Linked DNA regions of Homo sapiens. The protein of the gene in region 1 purifies or fractionates together with the protein of each later gene. This does not show direct contact. Each region holds a gene or a part of one and is shown in the gene's direction. Other genes may lie near its edges.

Region 1 (3,500 bases):
CTGGCAGCCACTGTTGTGCTTTTTTTTTCTGGGGACGGAGTTTTGCTCTTACTGGTCAGGGTGGAGTGCAGTGGCGCGACCTCGGCTCACTGCAACCTCTGTCTCCCAGGGTCAAGCAATTCTCTTGCCTCAGCCTCCCGAGTAGCCGAGATTACAGGTGCCCAGCTAATTTTTTGTATTTTTAGTAGAGATGGGGCTTCACCATATTGGCCAGGCTGGTCTTGAACTCCTGACCTCAGGTGATCCACCCACCTTGGCCTCCCAAAGTGCTGGGATTACAGGTGTGAGCCACTGCACTCGGCCCACTGTTGTGCTTTCTATGGATTTGCCTGTTCTGGACACTTCACATAAATAGAATCATACAATATGTGGTCCTTGTGTCTGGCTTCTTTTACTTAGCATATTTCCAAAGTTTGTCCATATTGTAGCATGTATGTATTTCATTTCTTTTATGGCCAAATAATCTATTGTATGGATATGTCATATTTTATTTATCCAGTCATCAGTTTATTTATCAAATGCCCCAATGCAGGGGCATTTGGTTTGTTTACACATTTTGGTGACTGAATAGTGTTGTCATGAACATCCTTATATAAGTTTTTGGGTGGATGTATGCTTTTCTCTTGAGTGGAATTGCTGGTTCATATGTTACCTATATTTTTAATCTTTTGTGGGACAGCCAGACTGTTTTCAGGCACACATGAAGACTGGCTGCACTGGTATACATTACTATTAGGAATGTATGAGAGTTCCAATTTCTCCACGTCCTTGCCAACACGTTTCCTTTTTTTTTTCTTTATAGATATCCTGGTGGGCACAGTATCTCTTTGTGGTTTTAATTTGCATTTCTCCAAATGGCTAATGATGTTGAGCATTTTTTTTTGTTTTGTTTTAAGATAGGGTCTCACTCTGTTGCTCAGGCTGGAATATAGTGGCGTGATCAGACTCACTGCAGCCTTGACCTCCTGGGCTCGGGTGATCCCCTCACCTCAGCCTCCTGGATAGCTGGGACTACAGGTGCGCACCAGGATGCCTGGCTAATTTTTGTATTTTTTGTAGAGGCAGGGTTTCACCATGTTGCCCTGGCTGGTCTTCAACTCCTGAGCTCAAACAGTCTGCCTGATCTGTGTACCTCAGCCTCCTGAGCTGCTGGAATTACAGGCGTGAGCCACTGTTCCCTGCCTGAGCATCTTTTCATGTACCTTAGTGGACATTTTTCTTTGGAGAAGTGTCTATGATCCTTTGCCCATTTGTAAACTGGGTTATCTGTGTTTTAATTATTGAGATACAAGAGTTATCTGTATTCTGCATATAAGTTCCTTATTAGAAAGGAATAATGGTTTGCAAATATTTTCTCCCGTTTTGTGGGTTTTTTGCTTTTTTGATGGTGTCCTTTGAAGCATAAAAATTTTTAATTTTGGTGAAGTCCATACCTATTTTTTCTTTCATTACTGGTGCTTTTTGGTGTCCTATCTAGGAATTCCTTGCCGAATCTAAGGTCATCAATGTTTATGCTTACGTTTTCTTATAAGAGTTTTATAGTTTTAGGTCTTACATACAGGTGTGTGATCCACTTTTGAGTTAATTTTTGTATATGGTGTAAGGAAGAGGTCAACCTCATTCATTTGCATATGAATGTTCACTCGTTCTACAACAATTTGTTGAAAATTATACTCTATTCCTAGTGTTTTACCAACCCTGTCAAAAAATGTATTTTTGTGTATTATATACATGTACTTATTACAGTTTTGTTTTCTTTCCTTTTAAGGAAAATTTCAAAAATGTTTCAAATTCCTGTGGAAAATCTTGACAACATCAGAAAGGTGCGAAAAAAGGTGAAAGGTATTCTTGTGGATATTGGGCTTGACAGCTGCAAGGAGTTACTGAAGGTAAGAGGACGTAAGTAGCCAACTGGAATCTGGAGGTGAGATTTGAACTCGGGTTTTTGAAGAGTGGGTAAGATTCCTCAAAATGGAAATTGCTGTTATACTTCAGATGGCTGTGTGAAAGCCTCATTAGTACTTATTTATGTCTTTATGACATAAAGTGAGCTATTTAAGCTGTTCAGGTTTTTAAGCTACTTTAAGGAGGGGATTTTTCTAGTCATTAGTTACTAAAAAATTGTTTTTGATGTTTGAGGGAAATGTGATTTGTTATTTTAGCAAAAGAAAACTAACTTAATTTCCCAGTATTGTTAGAGCAATCAACAAATGGGCATGCATAAATGAAATGATAGGGTTTTTTTTAATCCTGATTTGTGTAGTTGTATATGTGATCTCAGAAAAGTTTTCCTAAAATTTTGTCTGTCCTTATAACATTGAGAATACATAGTTGGCATATATAGTTTTAAACAATGTTAAATAAAAGTTGTTGTATATCCTGGCCGGGCATGGTGGCTCACGCCTGTAATCTCAGCACTTTGGGAGGCTGAGGTGGATGGATCATTTGAGGTCAGGAGTTCGAGACCAGCCTGGCCAACAACATGGTGAAACCCTGTCTCTACTGAAAATACATAAATTAGCTGGGTGTGGTGGCGGGCGCCTGTAGTTGCAGCTACTCAGGAGGCTGAGACACAAGAATTGCTTGAACCTGGGTGGCAGAAGTTGCAGTGAGCCGAGATAGCACCACTGCACTCCAGCCTGGGTGACAGAGTGAGTGAGACTCTGTCTCAAAAAAAAAAAAAGTTCTTATATATCCTTGTAGTCATTGGTAATGACATTTTTGTCTCGTCTAATCATTTATAGCCTTGCTTTCCCCTTCATTAATAAATGTAGTCTAGGATCAGGTATGTATTTGGTTGTCATGTCTCTTTAGTCTCCTTTTGAGGTCAATTCAATCTTTTAAGGTGGAATTCTGTTAGGAAATTTGTTTTATTTTTAAGTAACATGTCAGTAACAACAAAAGTTTTTCATCCTAGAGTCCTTTGTTTTTGACTTGACTGGAACTGAACATTGCTCGTGAACTTTTGCTTCCTTAGCCTGAGAATGTGTTTACTCTTCTGAAGTTCTTCACGGCTGTTTACTTTTTTTTCCCAAGACTTTACTGATGCAGAGATACGGTACTTCACAAGGGAAAATTAAGAGATTTGAATGGCTTAAACTGTTAATTAGATTAACTGTTGAATTAGTAAAACTATTTTGGGGAGAAAATTTTATTTGTAATTGGGCCTATAATGAAATTTTTGAAAATTCAAGTAATACAGAAGTTTTTTATAGGAAAATGAGAAAACAGACACAGAAACAAGACAGTAAGACTCACGCGTAAACCATTACCCTGAAATATCCAGAATTAACGTTGTTATATATCTATAGATTTTTAAAAACGGGATATATTCACATTTTTTTTCTTAAAAGGATATAATCAAATTGTATAAGCTACTGCACCAGCTGTTGTTTCTTTTTCACTGAACCGCATAGTGAGAACCTTTTTCCATGTGAAGTGCGTTTATTCTTAATCCACCACAGCAATTAGAGTTCTTTGTTTTCAAGCAGCAGAAACCA
Region 2 (3,500 bases), on another chromosome or scaffold:
TTGGCCCCCCAGAGTGCTGGGATTACAGGCGTGAGCCACCGTGCCCGGACTTTATTGTAATTTTCTTTTTTTCCCTTTTTTTTTTTTTTTTTGAGATGGAGTCTTGCTCTGTCACCAGGCTGGAATGCAGTGGCACCACCTCAGTTCACCACAACCTCCACCTCCCAGGTTCAAGTGATTCTCCTGCCTCAGCCTCCCAAGTAGCTGGGACTACAGGTGTGTGCCCACCACCACGCCCAGCTAATTTTTGTATTTTTAGTAGACACAGGGTTTCACCATGTTGGCCAGGATGGTCTCGGTATCTTGACCTCGTGATTCACCTGCGTCAGCCTCCCAATGTGCTGGTCCAGGGATTACAGGTGTGAGCCACCGCACCCAGCCCCTCATTGTGATTTTGATTTGCCTTTTCTTATTGATTAATGACGTTAAACATCCCAAATGTGCTTGTTGGCCATCTTTATATCTTATTTGAAAAAATGTCTAAGATTATCTCTTTTTTTTCTCCTTTTTTTGGTTTTGTATTATTTTTATTATCTCATTTTAAATTTTTTCGCCTGTCAGATAAGATTCTCTTTTATTAGAATAAGATACTACATTAGTCAGGCCTGGTGCAAGTGCCTGTGGTCCCAGCTACTTGGGAGGCTGAGGTGGATGGATTGCTTGAGTCTGGGAGGCAGACATTGCAGTAAGGTGAGAATAAGATACTACATTTGATCATCAAAATTATGCTTAGCTTCACTTTTTTGTTGTTGTTGTCTTTTACCTTGCAGCTCCAGCTCAAAGGATTAGCTTCACTTTTAAACATTTTTGGCCAGGTGCGGTGGCTCACGCCTGTAATCCCAGCACTTTGGGAGGCCAACGCAGGTGGATCACCTGAGGTCAGGAGTTCGAGACCAGCCTGGCCAACATGGTGAAACCTGGTCTTTCCTAAAAATACAAACATTAGCCGGGCGTGGTGACACACACCTGTAGTCCCAGCTACTCAGGAGGCTGAGGCATGAAAATCACTTGAACCTGGGTGGTGGAGGTTGCAGTGAGCCAAGATCGTGCCACTGCACTGCAGCCTGGCTGACAGAGTGAGATTCTGTCTTTAAAAAAAAAATTGACCATCTGAACCATTTCTAAGTGTATAGTCGTGTTAAGCACATTCACGATGTTGTGCGGCAAATCTCCAGGACGTTTTCATCTTGCAAACTAAGCCTCAATACTCATTAAACTTAGCTTGACTTTTGATATGTAATTTTTTATATGTTTTGTTTCCTTTCTGTTTTATTAACATGAAGTTTCTGGAGCAGCAGAGCTGAAGGAACCCAAACTTGGACTGAAGTGACTCTACTAAGGTAATGCCTCCTTTTGACATCCTATCTGGGCCAGTGGCAGACCCCTCTCCCTGACAGTGCTGGGTCCAGGGCTCCAGGCAGCCAGGGGAAGATGAAGACAGGCACTAATTTCCCCCTTGAAAGGTTGGCCCTGGACACTTACCCACACATCAGTGCCATCCTCACCCAAATGTTTCTATGCATGACCAATTGGAATCACTATGGAACATGGAAAAGCTTTTCCCACAAAAGAAGTGGTCATCTTTGAAACCCTGAGCACTCTCATGCACTGGAACTCAGGTATGATTTTCTGGAGGGCAGTTTGATGGTGTGTATAAAAAATCTGAGCCATGGGAATTTGAGACCACCTGAACAGCATAGCAAGGCTCTGTCTCTACCAAAAACAAAACAAAACAAAATAAAACCAAAACCTGAGCCATGGACCTACTCTGACCCAGTGGTATACCAGGATTTTATTTTAAAGGAAAATAAAAACATGACATGTTCAATGATGAGTGTGTGAGTGTATAGGATGTTCATTGCCACATTGTGTATAATAGAATGAAACTAGCTACAACCTATATAAACAGTTGAAGATTGGTTAAAAAGTCAAGATCCATCTATGTATGAAAATGAAGCTAAACATAAATTGTGATTTTTCCTTAGGCATTATAACAAAGGGTTATATTTTATCTTTATTGTTTCTCCATTAAAAAAATTTACTCGATATATATAATTTTTAGAAAGAAAAAATAGTTGATCTATATGAGACATAAAATGTGTGTGTGTGTGTGTGTGTGTGTGTGTGTGTGTATTAGTCTGTTCTCACACTGCTGTGAAGAAATACCCAAGACTGGGTAATTTATAAAGGAAAGAGGTTTTATTGACTCACAGTTCTGCAAGGGTGGACAGGCCTCAGGAAACTTACAATCATGACAGAAGGGGAAGCAAACACATCCTTCTTCACATGGCAGCAGCAGGGAGATGTGCAGAGCAAAGAGGGAGGTAAAGCCTCTTATAAAACCATCAGATCTCAGGAGAACTCACTATCACGAGAACAGCATGGAGGTGACCGCCCCCATGATTCATTTACTTTCCACCGGGCCCCTCCCACAACAAGTGGGGATTATAGGAACCACAAGATGAAATTTGGGTGGAGACATAGCCAAACCATATCTATCTATCTATCTATTTTTTTGAGACAGAGTTTCACTCTTATTGTCCAGGCTGGACTGCAATGGTGCGATCTCGGCAGTGCCTGGTGGCACATGCCTGTAGTTCCAGATACTTGGGATGCTGAGGTGAAAGAATCCCTTGAGCCTGGGAGGTCAAGGCTTCAGGGAGACATGTATGCACCACTGCACTCCTGCCTGGGTGACAGAGTGAGAACCTGTTTCAAAATAAAATAGGCCGTGGCTGGGCGCAGTGGCTCACACCTGTAATCCCAGCACTTTGGGAAGCCGAGGTGGGTGGATCACCTGAGGTCAGGAGTTCAAGACCAGCCAGACCAACATGGTGAAACCCTGTCTCTACCAAAAATACAAAATTAGCTGGCTGTGGTGGCACATTCCTATAATCCCAGCTACTTGGGAGGCTGAGGCCAGAGAATCGCTTGAACCTGGGAGGTAGAGGTTGCAGTGAGCCAAGATAGCGCCATTGCACTCCAGCCTGGGTGACAGAGTGATAAATAAATAAATAGGCCAGGTGCAGTGGCTCAGGCCTGTAATCCCAGCACTTTGGGAAGCCGAGAGGGGAGGGTCACCGGAGGTCAGGAGTTCAAGACCGGCCTGGCCAATGTGGTGAAACCCTGCCTCTACTAAAAATACAAAAATTAGCCGGGCCTGGTGGCGGGTGCCTGTAATTCCAGCTGCTTGGGAGGCTGAGGCATGAGAATCACTTGAACCCAGGAGGTGGAGGTTGCAGTGAGCCAAGATCGCGCCACTGCCCTCTAGCCTGGGCAACAGAGTGAGACTCTGTCTCAAAAAAATAAAAATAAATAAATAAGCTGTGCATGTTGGTTCATGCCTGTAATCCCAGCACTTTGGGAGGCCAAGGCAAAGGGATCACCCGATGTCAGGAGTTCAAGACCAGCCTGGCCAACATGGTGAAACACCATCTCTACTAAAAATACAAAAATTACCCGGGCATGGTGGTGCCTGCCTGTAACCCCAGCTGCCCAGG

What was found. The genes of interacting proteins can lie anywhere in the genome.
Region 2: the proteins of ADNP2 (region 1) and GDPGP1 purify together in Homo sapiens (affinity purification with mass spectrometry; one large-scale study listed by BioGRID and IntAct). This does not show direct contact.

The regions. Positions count from the first base shown.
Region 1 is NC_000018.10:80,115,762-80,119,261, forward strand, and holds part of ADNP2 (activity-dependent neuroprotector homeobox protein 2), read left to right. Parts: intron 1-1,768; 5' UTR 1,769-1,781; coding exon 1,782-1,889; intron 1,890-1,905; exon of another isoform or gene 1,906-1,924; intron 1,925-3,500. UniProt on the Homo sapiens protein: May be involved in transcriptional regulation. May play a role in neuronal function; perhaps involved in protection of brain tissues from oxidative stress. May be involved in erythroid differentiation.
Region 2 is NC_000015.10:90,237,209-90,240,708, forward strand, and holds part of GDPGP1 (GDP-D-glucose phosphorylase 1), read left to right. Parts: intron 1-1,283; 5' UTR 1,284-1,340; intron 1,341-3,500. UniProt on the Homo sapiens protein: Specific and highly efficient GDP-D-glucose phosphorylase regulating the levels of GDP-D-glucose in cells.